2 separate regions of the Homo sapiens genome follow, and region 2 is linked to region 1. The links come from fine-mapping of genetic effects on gene expression. A gene starts in region 1. The other region holds a variant in brackets. All regions are shown on one strand. Distances are between the middles of the regions.

Region 1 (16,842 bases):
AATGACACCCTATCCATTCAATGGTGCTGGGAAAACTGGAAAGCCACATGTAGAAGAATGAAACTGGATCTTCATCTCTCACCTTATATAAAAATCAACTCAAGATGGATCAAAGACTTAAATCTAAGACCTGAAACCATAAAAATTCTAGAAGATAACATTGGAAAAACTCTTCTAGACATTGGCTTAGGCAAAGAATTCATGAATAAGACCCCAAAAGCAAGAGCAACGAAAACAAAAGTAAACAAATGGGACCTAATGAAACTAAAAAACTTCTGCACAAAAAAGTAAATAATCAGCAGAATAAACAGACAACCCACAGAATGGGAGAAAATATTTTTAATCTATGCATCTGTCAAAGGACTAATGTCTAGAATCTACAAGGAAGTCAAACAAATCAGCAAGGTAAAACCAAATAATCCTATCAAAAAGAGGGCAAAGAACATGAATAGATAATTCTGAAAAGAAGAGATACAGACAGCCAACAAACATATGAAAAAGTGCTCTACCTCACTAATTACCAGGGAAATGCAAATTAAAACCACAGTGAGATACCACCTTACTCCTGCAAGAATGGCCATAATTAAAAAGTTAAAAAAAAAAGATGCTGGTGTGAATGTGGTAAAAGAACATTTATACACTGCTGATAGGAATGTAAATTAGTACAACCTCTACGGAAAACAGAAAGGAAATTCCTTAAAGAACTAAAAGCAGAGCCACCATTTGATCCAGCAATCTCACTACTGGGTATCTACCCAGAGGAAAAGAAATCATTATGTGAAAAAGACACAGGTGTATGCATATTTAGAGCAGTGCAATTCACAATTGCAAAGATATGGAACCAACCTAAGTGTGCATCAACTGAGTGGTTAAAGAAAGTGTGGTGTATATACACCATGGAATACTACTCAGCCATAAAAAGGAATGAAGTAATGTCTTTTGCAGCAACTTGGGTAGCGCTGGAGGCCATTATTCTCAGTGAAGTAACTCAGGAATGGAAAACCAAATACAGTGTGTTCTCACTTATAAGTGGGAGCTAGCCTATGAGATGCAAAAACATAAGAATGATATAATGGACTTAGGGAATTGGGGCCAGAAGGTTGGGAGGAAGGTGAGAAATAAAAGACTACATATTCAGTACAGTGTGCACTGCTTGGGTGATGGGTGCAGTAAAATCTCAGAAATCACCACTAAAAACATATCCTTGTAACCAAAAAACACCTGTACCCCCAAAACTGTTGAAATAAAAATAGAAGTTAATTAAAAAATATAGCCCATACAGGCCCACCTTGTCCTATCAACATTAACAGGAGTTTGGAAGAAGTTGATTCAAACCCTCATGGATGACTTTGAGAGGTTCAAGACTTCAATGGTGGAAGTAACTGCAGATGTGGTGGAAATAGCAAGTGAACTTCATGTCATTGCACTTCACAGATACTGGGCCTTTTGGAAATTGAAGGTTTGAGGCAACCCTGCATCAAGCATGAGCTGACAGAAGTTTGCAGTCAGAGTTGGGGATCTCTCAAAATGTATTTCTCAGTCTATTTGTGCCATATTTCCAACAGCATGTGCTTACTTCATATCTCTGTGTCACATTTTGGTAATTCTCATAATATTTTAAACTTTTCATTACTATTATATCTGTTATGGTGATCTGTGATCAGTAATCTTCGATGTTACCACTGTAATTGTTTGGGGGCACCACAAGCCATGCTCATATACAACAGCAAACTTAATTGATAAATGCGTGTGTGATGACTGCTCCACTATTGGGAACAGGCCCCCAAATCTGGCCATAAACTGGCCCCAAAACTGCCCATAAATAAAATCTTTGCAGCACTGTGACATGTTCGTGATGGCCATGATGCCCATGCTGGAAGGTTGTGGGTTTACCAGAATGAGGGCAAGGAACACCTGGCCCACCCAGGGCAGAAAGCTGCTTAAAGGCATTCTTAAACCACAAATAATAGCATGAGTGATCTGTGCCTTAAGGACATGCTCCTGCTGCAGATAACTAGCCAGACCCATCCCTTTACTTTGGCCCATCCCTCTATTTCCCATAAGGAATACTTTTAGTTAACCTATAATCTATAGAAACAATGCTTATCACTGGCTTGCTATCAATAAATATGTGGGTAAATCTCTGTTCAAGGCTCTCAGCTCTGAAAGTTATGAGACCCCTGATTTCCCACTCCACACTCTATATTTCTGTGTGTGTGCCTTTAATTCCTCTAGCACCACTGAGTTAGCATCTCCACGACCGAGCTGGTCTTGGCACTCCACTGACTGCCATTCTCCCATCACTTTCTCTCCTTGGGCGTCTCTATTCCCAGAGACACAACAATGTCGAAATTAGGCCAATTTAATAACTCTACAAAGCCCTCTACCTGTTCAAGAGAAAGAGTCACACATCTCTTATTTTAAATCAAAAGCTAGAAATGATTAAACATCGTGAGAAAGTCATGGTGAAAGTTGAGACAGGCTGAAAGCTAGGCCTCTTGTGCCCAACAGTTAGCAAAGTTGCAAATGCAAGAAATGTTCTTGAAGGAAATTAAAAGTGCTACTTCAGTGAACACACGGATGCTAAGAAAGTGAAATAGCCTTATTGATGATATGGAGAAAGTTTTAGCTATCTGGGTAGAAGACCAAATCAGCCACAACATTCCTTTAAGCCAAAGCCCAATTCAGAGTGAGGCCCTAACTCTTTTCAATTCTTTGAAGACTGAGAGAGATGAAGAAGTAGTAGAAGAAAAGTCTGAAGCTAGCAGAGGTTGATTCATGAGGGTTAAGGAAAGAAGCCATCTCCATAACACAGAAGTGAAGATGAGGCAGTGAGTGCTGATGGAGAAGCGGCAGTAAGTTTTCTGAAAGGTCTAGCTAAGATAACTGATGAAGGTGACTACACTAAACAATACATTTTTTTTTCTTTCTTTTCTTTTCTTTTTTTTTTTTCTTTCTTTGAGACAGGGTCTCACTCTGCCTCCCAGGCTGGGTGCAGTGGCAGGATCTCAGCTTACTGCAATCTCAGCCTCCTGGGTTCAAGTGATTCTCCCAGCTCAGCCTCTGGAGTAGCTGAGATTATAGGCATGTGCCACCACGCTTGGCGAATTTTTGTATTTTTTGGTAGAGATGGGTTTCACTGTGTTGGCCAGGCTGGTCTCAAACTCCTGACTTCAAGTGATCTGCCTACCTTGGCTTCCGAAAGTGCTGAGATTATAGGCATGAGCCACCACACTAGGCCAATAAATTTTCAATGTAGACCAAACATCCTTATAGTAGAAGAGGACAAGTCGATGCCTGGCTTTAAAGCTTCAAAGGATAGGCTCACTCTTGTTTTTGTTTGTTTTTACAAGATGGGGTCTTGCCGTCTTGCCCAGGCTGGTCTCAAACTCCTGCACTCAAGTGATCCTCCCACCTCAGCCTCCCAAGGTGCTGGGATTACAGGCATGAGCCATTGTGCCTGGCCCAAGGATAGGCTAACTATCCTAGCAGATGCTAATGCAGCTGGTGACTTTAAGTTGAAGCCAGTGCTCATTTACCATTCCAAATGTCCCAGGACCCTTAAGAATTATGCACAGTCTACTCTGTCTATACTCCCTAGATGGAATAATAATGTCTGGACAACAGTACATCTGTTTGCAGCATGGTTTACTGAATATTTTAAGTCCAGGGCTGAGACTTACTGCTAAGAAAAAAAAATTCTTTCAAAATATTACTGCTCATTAACAACGCACCTAGTGACCCAAGAGCTCTGACGGAAATGTATAATGAAATGAATGTTGTTTTCATGTCTGCTAACACAACATCCATTCCGTATGTCATAGATCAAGGAGTAACTGAATTTCAATCTTATTACTTGAGAAATACCTTTCTTGAGGCTATAGGTGCCATAGATAGTGATTCCTCTGATGAATCTGGGCAAAGTAAATTGAAAACCTTCTGGAAATAATTCACCATTCTAAATGCTGTTAAGAATATTTGTGATTCATGAGAGAAGGTCAAAATATCAACATTGACAGGAGTTTGGAAGAAGCTGATTCAAACCCTCATGGATGACTTTGAGAGGTTCAAGACTTCAATGGAGGAAGTAACTGCAGATGTGGTGGAAGCAGCAAGTGAACTACAATTAGAAGTGGAGCCTGAAGATGTGACTGAATTGTTGCAATCTCATAATAAAATTTACATGAATAAGGTGTTGCTTCTTATGGATGAACAAAGCAAGTGGTTTCTTGAAATGGAATTTACTGGTGAAGATGCTGTGAATATTGTAGAAATGACAACAAAGGATTCAGCATATTACATAAACTTAGTTGATAAAGCAGGAGCAGGGTTGGGAAAATTTATTCCAATTTTGAAAGAAGTTCTTTTATTGGTAAAATACTATTAAACAGCATCATGGGTTATAGAGTAATCTTTCATGAAAGGAAACCAAATGATGTGTCAAACTATTGTTCTTATTTTAAGAAGTTGCCACAGCCACCTCAACCTTCAGTGACCACCATCCTGATTAGTCAGCAGCCATCCACATTGAGGCAAGACCCTCCACAGCAAAAAGACTGACTCACTGAAGACTCAGGTGATTGTTAGCATTTTTAAACAATAAGGTATTTTTAAATTAAGGTGTGTACATTTTTTAGACATAATGCAATTGCACACACACTTATAGACTGTAATATTGTGTAAACATAACTTTTTTTTTTTTTTAGATAGGGTCTCCTTCTGTCAGTGAGGCTGGAGTGCAGTGGCATGATCTTAACATACTACAGCCTCGACCTCTTGGGCTCAAATGATCCCCCCACCTCAGCCTCCTGAGTAGCGGGGACTATAGGTGCACCCCACCATGCTTGGCTAATTTTTTTGTATTTTTTATGGTGACAAGTTTTGCCATGTTGCCCAGGCTGGTCTCAAACTTCTGGCCTCAAGTGATCCTCTCACCTTGGCCTCCCAAAGTGCTGGGATTACAGGTGTGAGCCACTGTACATGGCCTAAGCATAAGTTTTATACGCACTGGAAAACCAAAAAATCCATGTGATTCGCTTTATTTTGATATTCACTTTATCATGGTGGTCTGGAACCACACCTGCAATATCTTCAAGGTGTGCCTGTACCATAATTTCAATAAAATGTGATTTAACCCAGCATTATCTTTCTCTGCTATTGATGCATGATGTCAAATTTACCTTATCTGAAACCTGGTGAATGTTTTGAGGAATGGAGTGAATATTTAGAACTGGCCATCTCACATAATAAATGCTTGATAAATGGGTTTCTTGACTTTAAAAAAATGTCTGACTAGTGTTCAATGGAGTTGGAAGTATTTGCTAACATTATTACTTACACAGGTTACTTAATCAAATTTTAAACATTGTCAAACATATCTTGTATGTAACTGTGGGTTTTTAAAAATGAGTGTTGATATGATAATTCACAGGTTTCCTAATAAAATTTAGACACTGTCAAACACATTGGGCGTGGAACTGTCGCTTTTCTGAAATGAGTGTCACAGGAACACTGCATTGTCTCATACCAGTTTATTTTCTTTAGCTCCTATGGCATTCCAATGCTCTTTGAGTAACACCTTTATTGTCCTAGGATAAGGAAGAATTTAAGAGAGCTTTCCAGAACCCTATTTCATTGTTTTTAATAAATTCTTTCCCACTTTTGGCCCTCTGTAAGCAAGTTCTCTGCTACAAATAGATTAAATGCGTTGACTTCATCTGCTATAGTGACTCAGATTTCTTGACCTGATCTATTCTGCAGATCTAGTTTTTGAATCAGAAGTTAGGTAATGCCTTCTCCTGGGTTTTAATTATATGCGTTCAGTATCTTGGGTAAGAAAGTTAACTCTTTTGTCTTTTTGAGCTGTATCACTTATACCTTTTTTTTTCTCCTGTCCAAAAAGGGGGGAATATGTCCTAATAACGTCTTTGATACGCCCAAAATAGCCAGCTTCTCTGGGATGTAAGCAACAAGATATTTGGTTTGGGACATTTCCAAATTCCACAACCTTTTTTTTTTTTTTTTTTTTTTTTTTTTTTTTTTTTGTGAGACAGAGTCTCGCTCTATCATCCAGGCTAGAGTGCAGTTGTGAGATCTTGGCTCACTGCAACCTTTGCCTCCAGGGTTCAAGAGATTCTCCTGCCCCAGCCTCCCTAGTAGCTGGGACTACAGGCATGCACCAACATGCCCGGGTTATTTTTGTATTTTTAGTAGAGACAGGGTTTCACCATATTCGGCAGGCTGGTCTCGAACTCCTGACCTCAGGTGATCCACCCACCTCGGCCTCCCAAAGTGCTGAGATTATAGGCATTAGCCACTGCGCCTGGCCAGATTCCCCATACTTTGAACTCCCTACTTCTTCTGAGGCCAACCTCAGGCCTACCACGTAAGTCCTCCTCTATAGTGTCCGTTGAAGTGCCAGACTCATACGAAGCTCCCAAACTCATGTTGAAGAGGAGATTTTAGCTAAATGGAAATGTGCTGTGGCAATTATTCTACCAGTGTCCTTGATACAACAAACAAATCAGTAAATCAAAGTTGTAAAGAGCCTGGCTATGAAACAGGATACTCAGTATGTATTTTATTATTTATTTATTTATTTATTTACTTATTTTGAGAAGGAATCTTGCTCTTGTTGCCCAGGCTGGAGTGCAGTGGCACAATCTTGGCTCACTGCAACCTCCACCTCCCAGGTTCAAGCGATTCTTCTGCCTAAGCCTCCCAAGTAACTGGGATTACAGGCGCCTGCCACTACGCCCGGCTAATTTTTGTATTTTTAGTACAGACAGGGTTTCACCATGTTGGCCAGGCTGGTCTCAAACTCGTGACCACAGGTGATCTGACTGCCTTGGCCTCCCAAATTGCTGGGATTACAGACCTGAGCCACCGTGCCTGGCCTTTTATTAATTAAGATGAATGCTAATACAAACTGTGCTATGGGACATTTATAGGGTAGCTACCATTTAAAGAAAAAGAATTCTCTTACTTGAGACTGGTGGAAGGCATGGCAGATAGGACTTTGGCAAAGAATAGTGGAAAGAAAGTTGAAGACTGCGGGGAAACACAAGTCTGTGGATACACAGGTTGATACAGTCTCTCTTAGAGGGCATGAATGGGCAGGAAGGACTTTAACACTTACTTAGTACCTACCCTATGCTAGGGGCTGGGGTAAGCACTTTGCAGACATCATCTTTTAAAAAGTTCCTTAAGAATCCCTCAATCCTTCTTCTATAGTCTCCAGCTCAATGATGTTAAGTGATTCCTCCATGCCACTAAATTGGAAAGTGGTGGGAACTCACATTCAAACCCAGGTCTGACCAACTTCAAAGGCCAGGAGGCTGTTTCCTTCATTCCATGGCTGCTCCCTCAAGAGTAACTGTGCATGGGGATAAGAGTAACTCTTTTCCAAGGTTGATCAAGGTCTCTTTCAATACCGAGATTCTGGGACACAGATTAGAAGACACAGAAGAATGGCCCAGCCTTTTCCACCCAAAGACCTGTTACTGAATTTTGTCTCCATGTGTCTGAAGGGTACTTCCCCATCATCATTTTCATTCATCCTAAGAAAGGCGGCTCCCTGTGTGGAGGTGGTGGCCGCGAACATTTTGGCTGAACTGAGCAGTCAACCTTCTCATTTTTGCTGGAAGGATTTGAGAGAATATGGGGGAGATGGTACACGAGCCAGTGGAGGATTAGTGGGGTTTTATGTTGTTGTGATGAACTTTATGATGTTAGTTTGTGGTTTCACATAGCCTCATAAAACAAGCTGGATGGTGATTATGTCACTTCCTCTGCCCTCCCGACAGAGAGGAGGCCTTCTTTAGTGCCTGGAGTGTTTCCTGATGCTCCACTCAGGCCAGCTCACTTTTCAGATTTTAATGTAAGAGGTGTGGAGAAGAAAAGAAGAAGAAGGGGTGGGGGAAAGCCATCGGCTCAAGTAGTCACACTGTCATCCTGGCTGACAAATGACTGATGTCAGAGCATGGTACCGAAACGTATAGAAACAGGCCTGTTGGCTTGGGCAATACATAAATGAGCCAGTCACACATTTCTCGGATGGCTGGCAAAAGTTTTGTTGTCAAAGCAACGCCCCCATCGAGCTTGCTTTGCTTACGCAAGGCCTCAGCCTTTGCCTCTTCCCCAAACCCAAGCTACCTGAGGAGGAGGAGCTGAGTGAGGGGGAGGGACCAACAGATTTGTCCCCTGTGCAGGCTGCCTGCCTGCTTGAGTTACATCCACAAATGCCTCGGAAGCAGCCAGCTGGCTGCATCTTTCTCCTCACATTCCTGGGTCTGTCTGGGCTGGTTGGCACAGTTACCAGAACGTACTACATTGGGATTGTGGAAGAATACTGGAACTATGTACCCCAAGGGAAGAATGTTATTACTGGGAAAAGTTTCACAGAAGACAAGTGAGTGAACTTAGGGTCCTCATTGACTCCCAGGTTTGGCCTCTTTTTGACTTTGTGTGGGGAAGGTTGTATTTCTTGGGTACTTACAATGGGGGTGAGTTGATCTAGACCAAGAGAAGGTGTTTTGTTTTTTGCTTGAAGAGCCCTAGTATGGATGGGTGTGTAATCTGGAAGAGATATTCATAGCTCCATGTATTTGTTGAGCCACCTATTAATAGCCTTGCCTGTGAAGGGACATATACACAACCAGGTGTTTGACAATTTCCACCAGGTACTACTAGTAACTTCTGGGGGATTCTGTTTGTTTGTTTGTTTTTAAATGACAACACTTGGGATGAAGATTTGAGAAATTTCAAGAATTCCTTATGGTTAAAACACAGTGTTTTCTTAGTTTGTATTTCTGGAATGAAACATCATAATGGGAGATAAGTATGCTAAGTCATGTTTTTCAACGTTTAAAAGAGGGGGAAGTCACAGGAGATTTGCCTGCTATTTTCAGGGTTTCCTTGAGTCTACTTAGAATTAGCGCTTTCACTGGTAAAAAGTTTATTCCAGCTCCAAGTCATTCTTGCTGAGGGCAATATCTTATCCCAGAACCTATAGCATAGCTAGGTGAGATGGCGCCACGGTGTTCTATGTTCCTGATTTTTAATTTGGGGCAGAAAATAACCCTTTCTCCCTGCCCCCTCCAGGGCCTAGTATCTTAACCATCTAATTTGTTTCATGGATCTCCCTCTGAAGTCACCTCCTGACTCCAGAAGATGTCATGCTATTTTCAACTTTGTGGTTATTAGAACATCTTTTCAGATGTTTTGGCAACCTCTGTTGGATATTTGAATGCTTGCTTCTTTTCTGACAGGCAGAACCAGTTGCATTCTGCATCCATGTTCCATTTCCTAAAGATGAGTTTAGTTGATAAAATTCAGGAACAGCACAGGGCCTACCAGCAAGTCTTTAAGAGCCAGGGCCCCTTGTCTTTGAGGAAAGACCAAAGATCCAGTTGGCTTGGAAATACAGCTTCCAAGTTTTCTAACAAAACAAAGGTGGTATAGTCATGTTTTGTTTACCAAAGATGAAGCCTGTGCCAGACAAGCTGCCAAGGCAGACTTTTCCTTAAGCTTTGTACCTGGAAATGTAATGTCTGCAGGGCTATTTCCAAAGGAAACTCTTGATTGCTTTCAATCCCACATCTGCTGACCATTGGTGGTAGTGTCTTTACTGTGATGAATAGCTATGGGATTGAAAGGGTACCAAAAATGCCAGGAGCCTTCTCTACAAATAGAGCTCTGCTATTCTCAGAGAGGGCTCAGTAGGAAACAGTCAATGTGAGCAGCTACTGGGGATAAGAATGTTGAAAGTGTGTACACTGAGTGTAATGAATATAGCGTTTAAGCTAAATGTGATACTGGATTGCCTTTCCATAAGATTAACACCCACAGAAATTCTTCTTCCTAAAATGCCCACGTCACTATAGCTGTGTATGGGCATTTATTCTGACCCAAAAATTCTATGAGGGATTTTTCAATTCATTACTGCTTGCAGATATTATTATTCTCATTTTATGAACCAGGAACCAAGGCTCTGAGGTTAAATACTTGCCGGAGTTTATAAGTAAGTGGTAGCACCAAACTCATTGCTTTGGTTCCACAGCCCATATTTCTTTTCACCACACAATCTGTTTCTTGGTAAAGGTGATCCTTCTCCAGTGAATTAAAACAACTTTGAGGGAAGCCAAGGATCACAGTAATAAGAACTTTCTAGAAAGTCCTAATTTTTGCCAAAGGCATGTTTAGTCTCTTTTGTCACTCTTCCTAGAAGCATATTGAAAGGGATCACTGGTGGTCAGTGACCAAACAAGTTATCTGGGTTAATTCAAAACCTCAAAGAATCATAAATACTCAAGTACTACAATGCTGTTTTCACAAAGTGGGGTGCTGGAAGAAGTTGGGGTCTCTGTTGATCATTTCAACCAGAAGATGGTGCTTTGATGAAAGTACAATAAAACATATAAAAATTGCTATGGTGAAAAAGAAAATAGGCATGATGAAAACAGTTGGTTTGGCATCAGATTTGAGTGAGATGGTTTCAAAATGCATGGTCCCATATGATAGTGCGTTTGTTCTTAGAAGCAGCTGGCATGCTAAGGTGTCATACCTAGAACGCCAAGGTCCCCAAACATTTCTTTCTGGTATGCGAAGGGACAGAGTTTGTGTCAGACAGACTGCTACCTCTTGGAAGGGAAATCCAGGTGAGTATGCAGTGGACGTTGGCTTTTATCAGTGATCCCATCAGAATACTGGTTTTTATCAGTGATCCCATCAGTGCTAGTAGTTGTGGTAGGTGGCTCAGACAAGTTCCTAAAAAGGTAGGGCTGTCGTAGGTGGCTGACATTGCTTGTGGACCACAAGATATCCATCCTGGGTGTATGTGAAGATGCTGTGACTGGGACATAAGTGGAGTTCAGTGTGTGTACTCTGTGTTGTGCCATTTCCCCAGGAGCAGGAAGGAGCCATCGTGGATGATGTAATCATGCCCCTCTCTCAGCCTCCTGGAGGGTGAATAGGCTGCCTTTCTGAGGACAGTCTGTTGTTTTGGATATTCACACTTGGGCAAATGTCTGATATTTAAAGGACCAGGAGAGCCAGGTGCTCAGAATTCCACCATGAATGGAAAGAACCTGAAATAGAAATCCAGAGACCTAACTTCTAATGCTTGCTCTGCCCAACTTGCTGTGTAATCTTGAACATGTCATATAATCTCTCTGAATATCACTTTCCTTAATTTGTGTAAGAAGGGAGTTGAAATGTAATCCCTAGAGTCACTTGAGAAGTGTAATGCCAAAGCATTAGAAATAATTTTGAAACTGAATGAAAAATATCTTTCCTGACTTGCCAGTTCTAGAAAGATTTTTGCAATGGTGAAAGAAAGGAGAGAGATGATTTGCAAATGTTCAGTCCTAGAAATTAGAGTTGGAGAAGACCTGGGACTGATCGTGGGCATATGTGACAACTTTTGAAGTAGTCTTTATTTTTCTTTCTCCATTTTTTCCCCTGTCCTTTAAGAATTATCTCCAATTCCTCACTTCATACATGAAGCTTTCCCCCATGACCCTGGCTTGTACTGATCTGTTTCCTTCCTAACCACTCATGGAGCTTGGGGTCTTTATCATGAACTTGGACACTGCATTTTCTTCCCTCTGCATTGCCCTCTAATTGCTTGATGTACATTAGTCATGTCTGCAACTGCAGTAAAACACCCTGATGATAGATAAGAAGTTTTGGCGTATATTCAATAATCCCCCTTCCCTGCACGGAACTTTGTCATTGACAATATCCTATGGAGGATCCAGTACAGGGCAGGCATTCAAAATCATTGAAGTAAAAGCTAATCACCTTATCAACTGAGTTGTTCTGGTTGTTTTATCTTTGAATAAGGGGAATGGGCAAAAATCTGGGGAACAAGATGGTGGGTGCCAAAGTTTCAGTAATGTGAAAACATTTGGAAACCAAAGTTAGGCACATCCTTATGCACAAGGACGAGATCGAAAATGAATTGAAATCATTTTGCTGAGACTCTATAGCCCTCAGATGGTGCAAATTAACTTTTATGCTTGGTACCTATGCTTGATTATAGGGTTCAAAAATATAATTGAGTCTATAATCACTAATGTTTCCTAGAAAGTATAGGATTTAGGAGTTAGATTCTATTTAGAAATACTTTCTCCAGATAAATATACTTCTCCTCCTCCTTGGAGTAAATGGGGACACTGGGCTCCTTTGAGTTGCCTGGGGATGGTGTCAGTATTTTGATCTATTTATACCAGTCCTGCTCAGGCTCATAAAGTCCTTAATTAAGGTGTGTGTTTGGTGGTAAAGCCTGATCCTTAATGGAAGTAGGGTGGGGTCATCTTATTTAAAGCCACAGTTCTCACCATAGACCTCATTAGGCCATCAACACACATTCAGCCTTTTTCTTCCCAGTGAAATGCAGGGTTTTCATGGACGCTAACTCATGGGTGGAACTGCGCTTGAACATAAGTGAGGCTAGCCACTGCTCAAACCCCATTTTTGTAGAGTCTGTTAGTTGACCCAGCCACATCACTGCATCAGCCCAGTGTATGGCAAGGGGCTTTGAGTATTCTAAGAAGCAGGCCCTAGGATAGGTGTGAGAGAGAACTCACACATCTATCTGAAAGAAGGACCAACTGAGGGGAAGCAGGGAGGAGACAGAGGTTTTTGTGAGCTTTGAAATAAAGAAAAGAATATCATCTGGTAAGTGCATGGTCTAAACAAATGGTAACTTTCAAATCTCAACTTCTGTCTTATCAGCACCAAAAATATTTTGTTTGGACTGATGCCATATGAATCTCTGGGAACTGCTGTTCTACCCTATATCAGTAAGTGATTGTTTCTGGCTGCCACTAGAGACTGGAGTATAATGTCTTTAACAAATTAGGATTTTGTATTCATTTGTAGAAGAATCCAGAAGTGGGCAGTCCAAGGCTGGTGGGATAGATGGTATAACAAGATATCAGGGGCTTTCTGTATTTCTGATCCACCATCCTTAGCCTATGTGCTTTAAACCCTTTGTGGTTTCCCTCCTCAAGCACATTCATGGTCACAAGATTGCTGTTGGATCTCCAGCCATCGTGTCTACATTCCAGGAAGAAAGAGAGAAAGGCAAAAGGTAGAAGCAGAACAATTTTTGCTGCATCAGCCTTTCAAAGGGTTCTCATTGAAACCCTACCCAACCAATTTTACTTAAATCTCATTGGATACTCATAGCCACAAAGAGGACTTGAAAAAATATAACGTTTCAGCTGTGTACTTTTCTGCCTGAATAAAGATAGAATTTACCTCTGACACTAAGAAAGAAGGGGAGCATGAATATTGCAAGGCAGCTGGCAGTCCCTGCTCCCCTCCCCTACCTCAGTTCTCTCCTGTTTTCCATGATTCACAGGCATCCTCTTAGTCCCCATCTTGCTTTTCCCACCTCCATATGATGGACCCCCAAGGCCTGGTTAGCAGGATCTGAAAGATAACTCATTGACAGTATAATAAGTTAGCTAAGTGTCACTGAGTATTTACTATGCTCCAGGCATTGCTTTAAAAGGTTAGCACACCATGAAGTGGGGTGACCAATCTTCTGTCTCTGGGAGGGAGATCAGGTGGCATCGGGAGGATTTCTCCAGCCAAGTGTAGCCCAGCCTTGGTCTTAGGGAGATGCCAAGGCAGTCCAGTTTGCTGGTAAAGTATGGGGCTCTGGCATCAACTGTCACATTTAGAATTCTTGCCCCACTTTATGGGCAAGTAATTCAATCTCTCTTTGCCTCAGTTTTCTCATCAGTAAAATAGGGATAGTGACAGTACTTGCTTTGAGGGTGTATCAGTTTTCTGTGGCTGCTGTAACAAGTTACAAACTAGGTGGCTTCAAACAACAGCAATTTATTCTCCCCCAGTTTTGGAGGCCAGATGTCTGAACTGCATGTGTTGTCAGGGCCACAATGCCTCTGGAGGTTCTAAGGGAGGGGCCATTCCTTGACTCTTCCAGGTTCTGGTATCTGCCAGCATTCCTTGGCTGTGGCTGCATCACTCTGATCTCTGCCTCCATTTTCATATCGTCGTCTTCTCTCTGTGTGTCTAGCCTATCTTTGCCTCTTACTTATAAGGATGCTTTTGATGGTGTTTAGGGCCCACCCAGCTAATCCAGGATGATCTCCCCATCTCAAGATCCTTAACTTAATCACATCTGCAAAGACCCATTTTTCCAATAAGTTTCTGTGGATGAGGACTGCGGAGTTATCTTTGGGACTTAGGATCTGCACATACTCAGACACAGTGCCTGCCACTTGAGAGCACTTGATCAGCTCTCGTGGTAGCTCTGCCGTCTCACGGGGTTCTTTGGAGAGCAGGAGCCCTGGGGGAAAGACCTTGGCTGGTCACATTTTCCTCTTTTCTAACAAAGCTTTACGCTTTACCAGAAATAATCATAACTGTCATTGATTCAGCACCACTCTCCCAGTTGCTGTGTGTGTGGCTCTACACCTCTTCTCATTGAATCCTTATGATAGCTCTACCATGGTCACTGCTTTACAGCAGAGGAAACTGGTTCAGAGAGGTTAAGTCTCTTCCCCATTTCACAACCAGCAAGTGAGAGAGTTGGGATTCAAGCTCATTTTCATTCCCCCTCATCATGCCATTTGTTTTGAACACACCTTGTATATGAAGGGCTTCTGTGGAAATGAAGAGTGAAAAGGAAGGACCCAAGACATAGGTGGTGCCAGGGACCCAGAGTGAAAGAATGTATATAGAAGCACATCCAGATGGTATTAAAAATTATTAATCTAATAGGGAGGGTGCAGCTTCACCAAACTGAATGTGCAATCTCCGTCTCCACCCTTCCTTTTTCCAAGTGACATTTGTCTCAATCTCATCTTTTTTTCTCCTTGGTGAAGAACGTTCCTTCTCAAGCTCAAACAATATTTCTTGTCCTTATTGTGACTCTTATGATCTCACATGTTGGATCTGACCACACTCTCTGCTAACATTATTTTGCAGTTTATCTTCATCTTATATTTCCCTGCCCTCTACACAGACATGTGGGCTCTGGACAGTAGAGTTGGCAGTTAACATTGTAAAACTGTGTTTACTGTCAAATGCATGTTTTGCTTCCCAACTAGATGGTAAAACTCTTGCATGCAGGGACTGAGATTAATACATCTTGGCCCCAGTTTCTAGTTTTATGTCCCAGACATAGTAGATGATCAGCAATTGCTCCAAGGAAGCTATCAGAAAACATCCCTCTAAAAGATGCAGAGGTCATGGGATTGCTGGGTGGTTTATATCCCTGCAAGCTACGAACTCCTGAGAATCTAACCTGGAAGTCCAACTCTGTACTGTGTAGGGGATTCCCAAGGGCAGGTTTGTTCTGATAATGATTAATCTCCTCTGCTTTTGGAAGATATCTCCATCCACAGGATTGGCCCCAGGCACTGGCAATGTAATGTTCCAAGTCCCCATCTTGTCTTTAAGGCAGTTGTTAATGTTAACCTTCCTGGCCCCACTGGATTCTTTTGCAGCAGGAAGTAGACACCTCCTTAGCTTGAGTCAAGATGTTAGAATGCAGATTGAAAATGTTCTTGAGGAATAGTGATTGCTCAGCCCCTCGCCATGGCTACGTGATAAACAACAGATGGCTCACCAATGCAACATTCTAACAAATATACTCCATTTAAATTGGAGGTTGCTTCATGGGGATGGCTCCCTTGAAGTTACTTCCTTACTTTGTTTCTTGGGCAAATTTGCATTTTATAGAACTCAAAGGAGCTGGAGTTTCTGTTCTACTATTACAAATGCATAATATGTTCTCAATGGGTGGTTTGCTGTGTAGACACTAAAACAAACTACTTTCTCTTATTTCTATCCCTTCCCACTTCTTTTTTTACTTTCAAGCTTTTTTTCCTATTAGTTAAAAAAGTATAGGATCTCACTGTATTGCCCAGGCTAGTCTTAAACTCCTAGCCTCAAGTGATCCTCCCACCTTGGCCTCCCAAAATGCTGGGATTAGGCATGAGCCACCACACCCAGCCTCAACAAATTTTTATCAAATAGTTACTATAGTTTTTGTTTTGTGTGAAGTATCTTCCTAGGGCACCTTCATGGGTCAACCCTGTCCTACTCTTGATGTGGAGTCAGTGCAGGGGAAGAAGTCCTGGGACAAGGAGGAAGCTATGGGTTCTCTTCACTGTCTGAGCAGGAGGCTCCTCCTGCAGCAGAGGAAGAGAGGGTCTTGCAATAATAATTAAATGCCCCCACCCAGAAGTGACACGTGGCATTTCCACTCACAGCCAATTTGCCAGAACACTATGGCCCATCTAACTTGCAAAAGCAGAATCACTGTGGTCTTCTTTGGTTAGGAGGAAAGAAAAATTAGAATACGCAAGCCCTAAAAAGCTCTACTACAGGAATCATTTGGTGATCTTAGGAAAAAATACAGATACCATGGTCTTGCCAGTAGAAAGTCTGATTCCATTGCCCTGAAGTGGGGCCTGAGAATAAAAATTTGGCAAATGTTCCAAATGATTCTGATGCAAGTGGTACATGGGTGGACATTTGGGAACCACTGCTTTAGAAAACCCAATCCCCCCTTGGGGTGACTATTGGCTGTATAGGTGATAAGACTGATATGTGTCCAGGAATATGAAAAACAGTCAATGTATAACTCAGTGCCAAAATATGAAGCATACCATAAGTGCTCCAGTCCCTACAGGGACTCAGCAAACACTTCACTGCCCCTCCTGATACTTATTTTGCCTCTTATTTAGTGCCTTTGCCAGACAACTCATGGTAAGACCTGGTCTTGTGGAGGTGATGGAGAAAGGTCTTGGGCAGAGGTGGGGTCAGGACCTCTTAGCAGATTAAAAGCAGGAGTAC
Region 2 (16,842 bases), 120 kb before region 1:
AAGCCAGATCTGTTGCACTTCAAAGCTCACACTCTTTCCATTGCATCATGGTAATTTGCAATAATTTTGGAGAGAGAAAAGCAAAGTGATAACATCAAAGTTTCTGAGACCCTTCCAGCAAGTCACGATTGCTCTGGGGTGGGGTGGGAGTGCCAGGGTAGAGATTGTGCATCTTCAGGCCTCAGGGACACTGGGATTTCTTCCCTGTGGGGCAAACACACTGGATTTTATCTGGCTTTTTTTTTTTTTCCTCCCAGAGATAGGAAGAGTGAAAGGTCCTCATTAGTTGGGGTAGCTGGGCTTCCAGGCAAATTCAGGGACAAACTAACTAATTAAGTTTAAGTTGGACAGGAAAGGGGAGAGGTTCTAAGGGAAAGGAAAATCTTTGCCCATAATTATCAAGGTAGATTTCTACTTCATGCCTGCAATAAATCTCTCTCTCTCTATATATATACCAATACCTAATCTACATATATTTAATTTGTTCTATTTTTCTGGAGAACCCTGGCTGACAAACCTAGGTCCCATTCCATCTTTACTAATTAATAATCTGTGAACTTGGACACATGTCTTAACTTCCCTGATTCTTAATTTCTTGATCTGTAACAGAGATATAAACAATGCCCTTTTTTAAGCAATAGAGATGGGGTCTCGCTATGTTGCCCAGGCTGGTCTTGAACTCCTGGGCTCAAACTTGATCCTCCCTCCTCATCCTCTCAAAATGCTAGGATTACAGGCATGAGCCACCATACCCGGCCCAAGAATATAAATATATATATTTTTAATGAGACGGAGCCTAGTCTCACTCTGTCTCACCCAGGCTGGAGTGAAATGACATGATCTCAGCTCACTGAAATCTCTGCCTCCAGGGTTAAAGTGATTCTCCTGCCTCAGCCTCCCAAGTAGCTAGGATTACAGGCATGCGCCACCATGCCTGGCTAATTTTGTATTTTTTTAGTAGAGATGAGGTTTCACCATGTTGGTCAGGCTGGTCTCGAACTCCTGACCTCAGGTGATCCACCTGCCTCGGCCTCCCAAAGTGCTGGGATTACAGGCATGAGCCACCATACCCTGCCAACAATATCTACTTTTTTAAAAATCTCTTCTTCTCTCACCTGTGTATACAGCTCCCTTGTCTGCTTTCCTGTGCCTGTGAAAGGGTGCCTGAGGGGTGAGGCATCAGAGAAGCTACAAACTGATTATTACCTCCCACCTTTTGTACGTGTTCCATCCTGACCTGTTCTTCCTCTGTGGACAGCCCTTCCAGCCCCTCCAGTGTCTGTGCCCAGTGGAACCTGTGGGAGCAACTCTGCAGCCCCAACCCCCAAAGGGATGAGAACTGGGCAGCCCTCTTTCCACTGAATGCTGCTGCTTCTAATCAGGCTTCCCTTCCTAGTTTCAACGGCCCCTCTGCCTTTGCTGTCCTTACATTTGAACATTACCAGCCTCCCACCATTCTTGGGGTATCACCCTCTCTCATTCAGACCCTCTCTCATGTTATTTTAGCATTATGTTATCTGCCCTATGGTTTTCTTTTTAACTCTTTTTTTGTACTGATACAGGAGATAGAAGGAAATTATTTGGGTAGATAGGGCAAAAGAGTCCCCGGCAAAACTTTTCTTCTAACAAAAAGCAGCTTGAGAAATTACTTCCTTTCTAACCACTCGCAGTTCAAAGAAATCACTTCTCTTCTAATAAAGACCAGCCTGGAAGATCGGGCTGTAAAACATAGATAAACAACTCTGGCATAAAGGGAGAGCTTCCAGGGTAATCACCAAACTTCACATACATATGATTGATCCCAGTAAAAACAGTGGGCCTTAATGAGCACATTCCTTTCCCTTTTTGAGCACACTAAGATAGGGAAGCTGGAAGCTTGCATGGTGGGGCAGATGCCTACAGCTGCAAGGAGGTACCTAGGACCAGGCATGGAAACTCCCCCTCCCCTTTTTAGCACATGCATGGTGGGAAGGAGATAAGCAACATGGAATAGTCCAAGGTAAGAACCAGCCTGCATGATAAAAGAGTGGGGTGGGGCTGCCAGAGGTTTCACTCCATGCAGATGGCGCACCTGGTCCTAACTGGTTTTTCATGCCCTATGAGATAAAGTACCCTCTCCCTACTAGCTCACTTATAAAAACCCTTACATTTTACTGCAGTACAGCAACCCATTTGGGGCCCTTCTCCGAAGCAGAGAGCTATTCTTTTCCTTTCACCTATTAAACTTCTGCTTTAACCTCACCCTTTGTGTGTCCACATCCTTGATCTCCATAGCTGTGGGACAAAGAACCTTGGGTGTTATCCCAGACAACGAGGCTGCATCTGTACCACTGTCTTTGTAAATTCAATTGATGACACATTTAAACATGACACACACAGAAAAATGCATAAAATATAGACATACAATTTGATAAACAATAAACACAAATGTATAAGTTACATAATTATGAAACAAATACCTATATTGCCATTGTCCAGGTCAAGAAATAGAATGTCTCCAGTGCCCCAGAGGTCCCCTTCAGATTCCAATCCCTTCCCTGACCCAGAAGTATTCATAATTGTGATTTGTATGGTAACTATTTTCTTGCTTTTCTTTGTGGTTTTAAGGTCTATTTATGCATTCCTAAGCTCCATAGTTTCACTGCACTTGTTTTATATCAATGGAATTATATTTTTGTGATTTTTGCTTATGATGTTTTTGCATATGTGATTTTTTATGTATTTGTGTATGTTTATATCTTGCTTCTTTAGCTCAGTATTACGTTTGTAAGATTCTTCTATAGGGTTTTAAGTAGCTATAGTTCATTCATTTTTGATGCTATATAGGTAGACTCTCTTTATATCAGGAGTGGCTAAACTATGGCCCATGGGCCAAATCCAGCCAGTGGGCTGTTTTTGTATGGCCTGTGAACTAAGAATGTTTTTTACAATTATAAAATTTTAAAACAAACAACTCTCCACTGCTGCCCCCTAAAAAAGGCCAAAATATGAGGCAGACTACATATGACCCGAAATCCTATATCCTATTATCTGGCCCTTCATAAGAAAAGTTTTTCAACCCTGGCTGTATATGAATACACCATAATTTACTTATTTGCTGCCTTCTTGATGGGAATTTGAGTGGTCTGCAGTTTTTTGAGTACTGAGAAATGTTGCTGTGAACATTCTTTTTTCTAACAAAAGCTACTTCAGGCTGGAGGTCTGAACATTTTTGTACATGTTTTCTAGCACACATGTACCTGTATTTTGTAGGGTATATACTTAGAAATAAAAATTCTAGATCACTTAATATATGCATATTCAAATTTAGTAGACAACCCCAAACAGTTTTCCAAAGCAGTTGTACAAATCATAAATCATACTCCCAACAGCAGTGTGTGAGAGTTTCAGTTGCTCTATATCCTCACTAACACTTAATATTATCAACTTTAAAAATGTTTGCTTTTTTTTTGAGTTGGAGTCTTGCTCTGTCACCCAGGCTGGAATACAGTGGCATGATCTCGGCTCACTACCACTGCAACCTTTGCCTCCCGGGTTCAAGTGAGTCTCCTGTTTTAGCCTCCTGAGTAGCTGGGATTACAGGTGCACTTCAACATGCCTGGCTAATTTTTGTATTTTTAGTAGAGAGAGGGTTTCGCCATGTTGGCCAGACTGGTCTTGAACTCCTGACCTCAAGTGATCTGCCCGCCTTGGCCTCCCAAAGTGCTGGGATTACAGATGTAAGCCACCGTGCCTGGCCAAATGTTTGGTTTTTATATACTGTTATATCATCGTGGTTCTAATTTAGCATTTCCCTGCAACCAAGAAAGGTTGTGGGACATTTATATTTCTTTCTTCCTTTTTTTTTTTTGTAAAGTACTGGTTCAGTTCTAATATCTTTCCTATTTTTCTATTGGTATGTCCATTTTTCTTACTGATTTGAAGAAGTTCCTTATATATTTTGGATATGAATTTTTAATCAGTTATAAGTATTGTGAATATAAGTTTGCCTTTTCACTCTCTTAATGGTGAAGACTTGATGAGCAGAACTTCTTAATTTTAATGTAGTAAAAATTTATTGATATTTTCTTGAACAGTTAGTTCATTTGGTAATTTTTTTTGTTTGTTTTGAGACATAGTCTCGCTCTGTCACTCAGGGTAGAGTGCAGTGGCGTGATGTCAGCTCACTGCAACCTCCACCTCCCAGGTTCAAGCAATTCTCTTCCTCAGCCTCCCAAGTAGCTGGGATTACAGGCGCCACCACCATGCCCAGCTAATTTTTTTGTATTTTTAATAGAGATGGGGTTTCACCATCTTGCCCAGGCTGTTCTTGAACTTGTGATCCATCCACCTCAGCCTCCCAAAGAGCTAGGATTACAGGGGTGAGCCACCGCGCCCAGCCATTTGGTAACTGTTTAAGAAAACTATCTTCTCCAAGCTCATGAAAATATTCTCCCATTTTATCTTCTGAAGGCTTTATAGTTCTTTTCTTTTCTTTCCTTTTCTTTCATTCATTTTTTTTTTTTTTTTTTTTGACAGAGTCTTGCTTTGCTGCCCATGCTGGAGTGCAGTGGTGCTATCTTGGCTCACTGCAACCTGTGCCTCCTGGGTTCAAATGATTCTCCTGCCTCAGCCTCCCAAGTAGCTGAAACTACAAGTGCATGCCACTATGCCCAGCTAATTTTTGTATTTTTAGTAGGGACAGGTTTCACCATGTTGTCCGGGCTGGTCTCGAACTCCTGACCTCAAATGATCCATCTGCCTTGGCCTCCCAAAGTGCTGGGATTATAGGCATGAGCCACTGAGCCTGGCCTAGTTTTGCCTTTTCTGTTAAGTACTGGATACCTGGAATTGATTTCTGTTTAACCCATATGGATAGCAAATTGTCCCAGCAGCACTTATTTAAAAACCGTTCTTTCCCATTGCCCTGCAGTGCTGCCTCTATTATGTATCAAGTGTTCATATAATGCAAAGTTCTCTTTCTGGACTCTATTGTATTGGTCTGTTGATCTATGTACCAATCCATTCTGTTTAAAATATTGTAACTTTATATCAAGTCTTGACATTTGACAGTGCCAGTCCTACATTTTTCTTCTTTTTCTTCCTCCTCCTTCTTTTTCTTCTTCTTCTGGTGCATCTTGGCTATTCTTTGTCCTTTGCATCTTCACATAAATTTGGGGATCATCTTTTCAAATGCCACTAAAAACTGATTAGCATTTTGACTCGAATTGCATTGATTTTATAAATGATTTGGGAGAATTGGCATGTTTACAATACTGAGTCTTCCAATTTATGAACATAGTATATCTCTTAATTTAAGTAAGCTGTCTTTAATATCTCTCAATATGTTTTACAACTTTCACCATTAAGATCTGCACAATTTTGTCATACTTATTCCTAGGTACTTCATATTTTTTTTGAAGATGCTAAAAAGGTAGAGTCTGTTTGCCACAGATACATAAAATTTTTCTGTGTAACTTTGATTATTCGTGAAATGAAAAAGACTCTTTGATAAAACCTCTGCATTTACCTCACCTTCCTCTCATTTACCTGGGTCAGTGATGGCTCACCAGCAAGACAGAGGCATGTTTTTCCTTGATGGAGGGTACCCTTCTATGGACTAATAACAGCAATAACCAAAACTTGATCAGCACTTTATTTTTTAAATTTCTTTTCCATATTTCATTTCAATAGCATGATCAGCAGTTTAAAAAGTGTTTCCCTTTCCTGTATATCATATGGGCAGAAAAAAAGCAAAGTTTCCTACATTAGTATCTTATTTAATCCTTATAACTATCTTGAAAATAGACATTTTAATTTCCATCTTACTAGTGAGGAAACAGTTTCAGGGAGCTAAAAAGGCTTGCTCATTCTGTCAATGGATAAACACATAAAGAAAATTTGGCATATATACACAATGAAATACTATTGTGCCTGCCTTGAAAAAGAAGAAAATTCTGCTATTTGAGACAACATGGATGGACCTGGAGGACATTATGCTAAGTGAACTAAGGCACAGAAGGACAAATACTGCGGATCTTACTTATATGTGGAATCTAAAACAATCAAACACATAGAAGCAGAGAGTAGAATGGGGATTACCAGCAACTTGGGGGTAGGGAATGGGGAGATGTTAGTCAAAGAGTACAAAAGTTTAGTTAGACAGAAGGAATAAGTGTTTGGATATCCATGGCACAGTGTTGTGACTATCATTAGTAATAATGTATTCCATATTTCAAACTTGTTATGAGAGTGAATTTCAAATGTTCTCATCACAAAACATGGTAAGTATTTGAGGTCATAGATATATTAATTAGCTTAATTTAATTATTCCACACTGTATACATATATCAAAACATCACTTTGTACTCCATGAATATAAACAACTGTAATTTGTTGATTTACAGTAAAAAAAAAAAAAAGACTTGCTCAAGTTTGCATGGCTTTATTTAGCTCCAGTTCAGAACTATTGACTTCAGTCTGTTCTCTTTACCTGACCCACATTTGCCTCACCACCTGGCACCTTTGAAGGTGTGGGTTTTTGTAGTGCTTCGTGCAGTGTTTTGTAGTGCCGGATCAGATTAATATTTGGGGAGCTAGAGAGTAGACCTAGAAGAAAAACAGTCTACAGGGACTAGATTTTTTCTATTTTCTACCTAACAGGATACTATACTCACTTGTCTTTTTAGGGGAACCATAATTCAGTCAACAGATCTCAGTTCCCACTAAATTTGCTTTCGATACAGGCTTTCTGTTTAGAAATGAGTGCCAGTCCTAATGAACAGTGATATTTTTTTTTCTTATTAGACCAGAAGAAACTTGAGGGCATATATTTATAGTCATGGTGCCTGTTACAATGTTTTGGCAAAAAGTGTTTGCTGAATGAGTGCATTTTTCTGCTACGTATACAATCTAGAAGCTTATCTTCCAAGAGCTAACTATTTAATACCTTGAAGACTCAACAGGGGGTGCTCCAAGACTGCCTAGTGTAGTTCACACTTGGTGAAAAAGAATGCTGTTCACCTGCCAAGGAGCTGAAATCTGTGCGTTTTGGTTTAAAACAGGAGCAAGAAGGAGAAGGGGGAGGGAGATGAGAAAAACCTTTGGTTTTGGCATTCTTTTCATTCACAGTTGAGCCATAGTATGAGATCCTCTGTGGTTTTACTTAGGCATTTATGATTCCCTCAGATTTGAGGAGCATTTTCTAGCTCCTCTAGGGCAGAGCTCTCCTATTTTACTTTGTACTCCATACAAGAATTGATAAATTCTGGTTGAACTGAGACAGCTAGCTCTATCTGGAAGCCTGACCCCCATAAACTCTTCCCTGAATTAAGTTTCCTCCTCCTCCATTCCCTTTCTTGGTTGATGGTGTCTGCCGGCCCCAGCATTAGAGTTAAAACTTCAGAGCCACCCTGCTGCTCAGCAATTTCTCCATGAGTCCAGTTGGCATCTAGTCCCATTACCTGCAGTAGTTGTTTTAAACCTTCACTTCTCAATCCTCCCTCCTCCCTCTTTGCTCATCCCACCCCGCTGTTTCAGGAGGTGACTCTCTACTCTCTGAGCCCCAATTCACGTTTCAAGTGGAAAGCGCCTTGTGGAGTCTCCCTCAGCTTTCTAAGTGCACCTTTGGACCACTCCATACTCCCATTTGTCCTCTGTTTCCCTCCCCGTGATCCTGGAAGAGGTATCTTAGATTGTAGTCAACATGAATCCTACCCCTGTCTGGTCTTCCATTTATTTGTTCATTTATTCACCCATTCTTCAAACATTTATTAATCACTGCTATGTGATAGGTTCTGGGAATACAACAGTGAGTACAACTAACAAGGTCTACTAGGAGAGACAGCTGTTAATTGAATAACCAACCTACTGGATGAAGTGGGGTCAATGTTCTCATGCTGTGCTAAGTTGTACTGAGATAATGCAGCTTTTGTTGTTGTTGTTGTTTTTGAGATGGAGTCCCGCTCTGTCACCTAGGCTGGAGTGCAGTGGCGCAATCTCGGCTTACTGCAACTTCTGCCTCCAGGGTTCAAGGGATTCTCTTGCCTCAGCCTCCTGAGTAGCTAGGATTATAGGCACACATCACCATGCCCAACTAAATTTTTTTTTGGATTTTTAGTAGAGATGGGGTTTTGCCATTTTGGCCAGGCTGGTCTCAAACTGCTGACCTCAAATGGTCTGCCTGTCTCAGCCTCCCAGTTGCTGGGATTACAAGCATGAGCCACCGCGCCCGGCCAACACAGCTTCTTAGTTCCTATAACTGATATTTCTTCCTCAAAAGCCATTCTTCCTCACAAGCCAGTTAATAGTATCTCAGGCTCAGAGTAAGGATTCAGACTAAACACACCTGGGGAGGCAATCCCTCTGATAAATCACCTGTACCTGATGGGAAGGGGCCCTGCTTGATCCCTAAAGAAGAGCTTTGCAGGGCACAGTGGCAGGAGGGCTCACCAACAGGCTGGCAGTTCTGATTTCTCATGTTATGCTGTCCCTGTGTCTGTGTGTCAGCGCCCCCCATGGCCTGTGTGGGGGGATCAGAGCATACCTGGGTGGGTCAGGGTTGTGGACATGCAGTACCCACAGAAGGACATGGAGAGGATTCTGGGAACAAGAGGAGGCAGGACCTGGTGGGTTTCTGGGACAGGTCCATGCCCAGGGTTATTAAGTCCTAGGTTCTATTATATGAAAATCAGGTTAAGATGAAAGCTAAGTGGGTCAAAACGGAGGGAACTTGAGGTGTGAGGAGTTTCTGAGCAGACACTGGGAAGGTGAGGCCTGGATGAAGGTCCTGAGCTGGAAGAATAAGAATCTGCTGGCTGGACGTGGTGGCTCACACCTGTAATCCCAGCACTTTGGGAGGCCAGGCAGGTGGATCATTTGAGGTCAGGAGTTCGAGACCAGCCTGGCCAACATGGTGAAACCCCATCCCTACTAAAACAGAAAAATTAGCCGGGTGTAGTGGCAGGTGCCTGTAATCCCAGCTACCTGGGAGGCCGAGGCAGGAGAATCGCTTGAGCCCGGGAGGTGGAAGTTGCAGCGAGCTGAGATCATGCCACTGCACTTCAGTCTGGGTGACAAGAGTGAAACTTCATGTGAAAAAAAAAAAAAATCTGTTTCATAGCTCTTCAGTCACCTGTCACTCACTCATATCTGAAATTCCACCATTAGCCCCTTACTCTTCTGACTCAAGGTTTCAGCCTATATCAAAAGGGAAATAGTGTCTCAGGGAAGGGACA[T/C]GGAGCTCCTCTCACCTCTTCTATCCCTACCATCAGATTCAAATAGCAGCTGCTGGTAGTTTGTATTTCTCTGGGATCAGTGGTGATATTCCCTTTATAGTTTTTTATTGTGTCTATTTGATTCTTTCTTTATTAGTCTTGCTAGCGGTCTATTTTGTTAATCTTTACAAAAAACCACCTCCTGCATTCATTGATTTATTTGAAGGGGTTTTCTTGTCTCTATCTCCTTCAGTTCTGCTCTGATCTTAGTTATTTCTTGTCTTCTGCTAGCTTTTGAATTTGTTTGCTCTTGCTTCTCTAGTTCTTCTAGTTGTGATGTTAAGGTGTTGATTTTAGATCTTTCCTGCTTTCTCCGATGGGCATTTAGTGCTATACATTTCCCTCTACACACTGCTTTAGCTGTGTCCCAGGGATTCTGGTACATTGTGCCTTTGTTCTCATTGGTTTCAAATAACTTATTTATTTGTGCCTTAATTTCATTATTTACCCAGTAGTCATTCAGGAGCAGGTTGTTCAGTTTCCATGTAGTTGTGCAATTTTGAGTGAGTTTCTTAATCCTGAGTTCTAATTTGATTGCACTGTGGTCTGAGAGACTGTTTGTTATGATTTCTGTTCTTTTGCATTTACTGAGGAGTGTTTTACTTCCAATTATGTGGTCGATTTTAGAATAAGTGCGATGTGGTACTGAGAAGAATGTATATTCTGTTGATTTGGAGTGGAGACTTATGTATATGTCTATTAGTTCGCTTGGTCCAGAGCTGAGTTCAAGTCCTGAATATCCTTGTTAATTTTCTGTCTCATTGATCTGTCTAATATGGACAGTGGGGTGTTAAAGTCTCCCACTATTATTGTGTGGGAGTGTAAGTCTCTTTGTGGTTCTTTAAGAACTTGCTTCATGAATATGAGTGTTCCTGTATTGGGTGCATATATATTTAGGATAGTTAGCTCTTCTTGTTGCATTGATCCCTTTATCATTATGTATTACCCTTCTTTGTCTTTTTTGATCTTTGTTGGTTTAAAGTCTGTTTTATCAGAGAATACTATAAACACCTCTCTGCAAATAAACTAGAAAATCTAGAAGACATGGATAAATTCCTGGACACATATACCCTCCCAAAACTAAACCAGGAAGAAGTCAAATCCCTGAATAGACCAGTAACAAGTTCTGAAATTGAGGCAGTAATTAATAGCCTACCAACCAAAAAAAAAAAAAAAAAAAAAGCCCAGGATCAGATGGATTCACAGTCAAATTCTACCAGAGTTACAAACAAGAGCTGGTACCATTCCTTCTGAAACCATTCCAAACAATGGAAAAAGAGAGACTCCTTCCTAACTCATTTTATGAGGCCAGCATCATCCTGATACCAAAATCTGGCAGAGACACAACAACAACAACAAAAATTTCAGGCCAATATCCCTGATGAACATCAATGTGGAAATCCTCAATAAAATATTGGCAAACTGAATCCAGCAGCACATCAAAAAGCTTATGCCCCATGATCAAGTTGGCTTTATCCCTGGGATGCAAGGCTGGTTCAGCATACACAAATCAATAATCGTAATCCATCACACAAACAGAACTAATGAGAAAAACCACATGATTATCTCAATAGATGCAGAAAAGGCCTTCGATAAAATTCAACACCCCTTCATGCTAAAAACTCTCAATAAACTAGGTATCGATGGAACATATCTGGAAATAAAAAGAGCTATTTATGACAAACCCACAGCCAATATCATACTGAATGGGCAAAAGCTGGAAGCATTCCCTTTGAAAATCGCCACAAGACAAGGATGCCCTCTCTCACCACTCCTATTCAACATTGTATTGGAAGTTCTGGCCAGGGCAATCAGGCAAGAGAAAGAAATAAAGGGTATTCAAATAGGAACAGAGAAAGTCAAATTGTCTCTGCTTGCAGATGACATGATTGTGTATTTAGAAAACCCCACTGTCTCAGCCCAAAATCTCCTTAAACTCATAAGCAACTTCAGCAAAGTCTCAGAATACAAAATCGATGTGCAAAAATCACAAGCATTCCTATACACTAATAATAGACAAACAGAGAGCCAAATCATGAGTGAACTCCCATTCACAATTGTTACATAGAGAATAAAATACCTGGGAATCCAACTTACAAGGGATGTGAAGGACCTCTTCAAAGAGAATTACAAACCACTGCTCAAGGAAATAAGAGAGGACACAAACAAATTGTAAAACATTCCATGCTCATGGATAGGAAGAATCAATATCATGAAAATGGCCATACTTCCCAAAGTAATTTATAGATTCAATGCTATCCCCATCAAGCTACCATTGACTTTTTTCACAGAATTAGAAAAAAACTACTTTAAAGTTCATATGGAGCCAAAAAAGAGCCCATATAGCAAGGACAATTCTAAGCAAAAAGAACAAAGCTGGAGGCATCATGCTACCTTACTTCAAACTATACTGCAAGGCTACAGTAACCAAAACAGCATGGTACTGGTACCAAAACAGAGATATAGACCAATGGAACAGAACAGAGGCCTCAGAAATAACACCACGCATCTACAACTATCTGATCTTTGACAAACCTGACAAAAACAAGCAATGGGGAAAGGATTCCCTATTTAATAAATAGTGTTGGGAAAACTGGCTAGCCATATGCAGAAAACTGAAACTGGACCCCTTCCTAACACCTTATACAAAAATTAACTCAAGATGGATTAAAGACTTAAACAAGAGACCTAAAACCATAAAAACCCTAGAGGAAAACCTAGGCAATACCATTCAGGACATAGGCATGGGCAAAGACTTCATGAATAAAACACCAAAAGCAATGGCAACAAAAGCCAAAAATAGACAAATGGGATCTGATTAAACTAAAGAGCTTCTGCACAGCAAAAGAAACTAGCATCAGAGTGAACAGGCAACCTTCAGAATGGGAGAAAATTTTTGCAATATATCCATCTGACAAAGGGCTAATATCCAGAATCTACAAAGAACTTAAGCAAATTTACAAGAAAAAAACAACCCCATCAAAAAGTGGGCAAAGGATATGAACAGACACTTCTCAAAAGAAGACATTTATATGGCCAACAAACATATGGAAAAAGCTCATCATCACTAGTCATCAGAGAAATGCAAATAAAAACCACAATGAGATACCATCTCATGCCAGTTAGAATGGCAATCATTAAAAAGTCAGGAAACAACAGATGCTGGAGAGGATATGGAGAAATAGGAATGCTTTTACACCGTTGGTGGGAGTGTAAATTAGCTCAACCTTTGTGGAAGACAGTGTGGCGATTTCTCAAGGATCTAGAACCAGAAATACCATTCAAACCAGCAATCCCATTACTGGGTATATACCCACATTATTATAAATCATTCCACTGTAAAGACACATGCACACGTATGTTTATTGCAGCATCGTTCAGAATAGCAAAGACTTGGAAGCAACCCAAATGCCCATCAATGATAGACTGGATAAAGAAAATGTGGCACATATACACCATGGAATGCTATGCAGCCATAAAAAAGGATGAGTTCATGTCCTTTGTAGGAACATGGATGAAGCTGGAAACCATCATTCTCAGGAAATTATCACAGGAACAGAAAACCAAACACCGCATGTTCTCACTCATAGGTGGGAGCTGAACAATGAGGACACATGGACACAGGGAGGGGAACATTACACACTGGGGCCTGCCAGGGGATGGGGGGCTAGGGGACGGATAACATTAGGAGAAAGATCTAATGTAGATGATGGGTTGACGGGTGCAGCAAACCACCATGTCATGTGTATACCTATGTAACAAACCTGTACATTCTGCACATGTATTCCAGGACTTAAAGTATAATAAAAAAAGAAAAAAAGTTAAAAATAGAACCACTGTATAATCCAACAATTCCACACTGGACATATACCACCCCCCAAAAATTGAAAGCAGGGTCTTGAAGATATATTTGTATATCTTTGTTCATTGCAGTATTATTCACAATAGCCAAAGGGTGGAAGCAATCCAAGTGTTCATCAATGATTGAACGGATAAACAAAAATGTGGTATGTATATATAAATATATGTAAATACACACAGAAGCACACACACATTTGCACACACACATGCGCACACAATGGAATTAATAAGCATTGAAAGACAACAATGTATTATTCAGCCTTAAAAAGGAAGGAAATGTGACACATGCTACAACATGGATAAAACTTGAGGGCATTTTGCTAAGTGAACTAGGCTAGAAACAAAAAGACAAATACTGTATGATTCCACTTATGTGAAATACCTAGAGTAGTCAAATTCATAGAGGCAGAAAGTAGAATGGCAGCTGCCAGGGGCTGTGGAGATGAAGGAATGAGTTGTTATTTAATGGGTACAGAGTTTCAGTTTTGCCAGATGAAAAGAGGTCTGGAGATGGCACAGCAGGGTGAATGTACTTAGCACTACTGAACTGTAAGGGCTTTACACTTAAAACTGGCTGAAATGATAAGCATAGTTTTATGTTATATGTGTTTTACCACAATTGAAGAAAAGAATTTCAAATTAAAGATAATTTGAAAAAATAGTTTAATGGACATTTATATGCCCTTCCACTGGATTCATCAATTATTTTGTGTTATCCACTCCCAAATATTTTTATTTGTTGCTAAAACATTGGAATGCAAGTTGTAAATATCATGGCACTTTCCCTTTAAGTACTATAGCTGGTATCTCCCCCAGACAGGGATATTCTGCATAATCTACATCACATTCAAGACATTTAATACTGGCGTGTGTGTAATAACAGTAGTATTATCTAATCTATAATCCATGTTTAGAATTTCCCAGTTTTTCCAATAATAATCTTTGTACTTTTTTTTGTTGGATCAATTTTAGTTAAGTGATTTTTTTGACAAGTATTTATTGAGTACCTTATGTGTACTAGGCACTGTTCTATTTTTCACTGTTTACCAGTGAATAAGATTGGTAAAAATCCCTGCCTTCATGTCTAGCTTATATTCTAGAGCTATAGAGAGAGACAGAGAGTGGCTCAGGAGACAGTAGAGAGTAGAGGAAGACAGCAAACAAAATACATGAGGAAATGGTATGTGGGACTAAATACATGAAGTACCATGGTGAGAGAGAAGAACATGGCTGGCAAAGGGATTGGGGTACATGAAAAGGCAGGAGGAAGCTGAAGTTTTAAATAGGTGGTCATGTGCCAGGCGAGATGCCTGAGCATAGGCATGGAGAGGCCAGGGAGCAACCAATGTCTATTGGGGCAAGAACTTGCAGGCAGAGGAAACAGAAGGATGAACGCCCTGAGGCGGGAGCAGAGCTTGCATGAGTAAGACTGGCAAAAAGGCTGATATGGGGAAGAGCGGGAGGGAAGGTCAGAATGCAGGGGCCAGGCTTAGAGGCGAGTGGGGCTCTGGTTTTCACTCCTAGTGAAATGGAAGCCTTTGGAGGGTTCCCAGCAGAAGAGGAAAATGGTCCAACATACATACCAAAAATAAATATATTTATTTATTTATTATATATATATTTATATAGAATATATTTTTATTTTATATATTTATTATATATACATATACAGTATTATACATTTTATAATATATATTACAATTCTCTGCTTTGGGCTAATGTATATTTATATAATATTTGTATGTAATATAAATATATATTTATACTTTATATAATATAAACATATATATGAACATATTTATATTATATAAATATAAGAGAGAGAGAGAGTCTTGTTCTGTTGCCCAGGCTGGAGTGCAGTGGGGCAATCTCAGCTCACTGCAACCTCTGTCTCCTGGGTTCAAGCGATTCTCCTGTCCAGCTGAGTAGCTGGGACTACAGGTGCACGCCACCACGCCCAGCTATAAATTTCCATCTGTATTCCAGATTCTGACTTCTGGGCTCCAGTACCCAAAGTCCAGCGGACATCTTCACATCTACACCTGGGTGCTCTGCAGGCACCTCAAAGTGAACAGTGCCAACTGAATCAGCATCTCTGCTGCACCCTGCACCTGCACCTCCTCCTGGGCTTCCTATTCTGAAAATACAGACTTAATTGCGTATTTCCACAGCTCACCACTCTCCACCGATGCCCCTGTATAAAATTCCTTATCTTGGCTCTTGCCACTCACTCCTCCTCATGCATACTGGTGTCAACTGTAAAGGACTCGGTGGAGTTCCTCCCACCCAGGCTGTCTCTCACCTCTGGAAAGCTGGACCTTTGCCTATTGTTACCTCAGATACAATGTTTTCTTTCCCCATGAAGAGCCTGACCTACTCATGCTCTTCTCCCGAAGCTTCCAAGACAAGCTTAGTGCCTCTGCTAGGTGCTCCTGTGGTGTGAGTGACAGGAACAAAAGGCAAGAGCAAAGGGGGAGCCACAGAGAGATGTGCATGCTCATCACAGGGAGGAGCTGCTGTGCAGGTAATCTGTTTGCTCAGACTGACTTTGGGAACCATGTCAGTGACTCTCCTGAAATGAACACCTTGGAGAGACCCAGGCAGCTGGGTCATACGTCCCAGGCAGCTGGGGCAGACGGGTCCGAAACGTCCTGTTGATCACTGGCCACATGAATCCTAAGGGGCAATGCCCCAATTAATGAGAAGATCCTGCCTTCATGCTCTCTCTCAACAGGCCACTTTCTGTTTTTAAGAGCCTGGGCTAAGAGTGATCAATTCCATTAGCCCTTAGAGGTGGCATCACAAAAGCATCTTTGGTTCTCTCTCAAAGCCCGATCCTTCAGAGAGGAGGGCACCCAAGAATAGGGTAATCTCAGTCCTGACCCGGGACAGGAATTGCTTCCTTTGCCACTGGTTTATGTGTGACCCCAAATAATTCACTCCTACTCGCCCTGTAGGCCTTTATTCACTTGTAAAATGGGTATAATAATTTTTATCTACCTCAGAGGTGCACTGGGAGGTATAATTAATGGTGGTTAAAGCACTTTGAGAGGCACAGATGAAAGGCCTTCTATAAACACACATCATTATTATGATTAATGGTATTTTTCTTCTTCGAACACACTGGGAGGCAGCCCTTTTGGCTTAAGTCCTTTAATCACCTCTCAGCTCCTCAATCACACAAGAGACATTACAGCCTCCAGGCTGGCCACACAGTAAACCTTTAAAGCCCTGAAAATGTACAGCCATCCTGAAAGTGATTTTAATCTCTGTCTTACCCCTCTCTTTTGACATTCTTCCAAAATGATCTGACTTGAAAAGTGGCAGTTTTTATATATTATGAATAATCTGTTTAATTCGAAGCATTTCACCAGTTTTGAAGGGAGGGGAGAACAGTGTTCATCATCATTAATTAATATGTACTGACTATCCCCAGCACCAGCTCTTGCTTTTCCCAGACCACAGAGAAAACCCAGACATCTGTGTATCAGTGCGGGACTGATTTCCCAAGGTAGAACCAAAGTGACTCATTTTGGGGCAAAGCTAAGACCCAACTGGGTCCTGAGGTTCCTGAGAGCCCAGATCCCTGCTCCTGAAAAGGGACCTGATTTGTGGTTCCCATTCAGACCCCTCCAGCTCATCTCACAGAGTGCAGTGTTTAGTGCAGGCTTTGATTATGAGTGATGACCCACATGGCTTCCCAGGTGGAGCCTGCCAGAGGGACGTG

What was found. PIP is the estimated chance that this variant, and not a neighbour inherited with it, causes the effect.
Region 2: its variant is fine-mapped to the expression of HEPHL1 in prefrontal cortex (CommonMind, PIP 0.95).

The regions. Positions count from the first base shown.
Region 1 is chr11:94,013,129-94,029,970 of GRCh38, forward strand. It overlaps HEPHL1 (hephaestin like 1), which reads left to right and starts at 8,226. Exons shown (of 20, transcript NM_001098672.2): 1 at 8,226-8,410. The coding sequence starts at 8,241.
Region 2 is chr11:93,888,610-93,905,451 of GRCh38, forward strand. It overlaps the pseudogene LOC101060084. Among named protein-coding and RNA genes, the nearest start is that of VSTM5, 46 kb to the left of the region's middle. The variant T/C (reference allele first, on the strand shown) is at 9,216.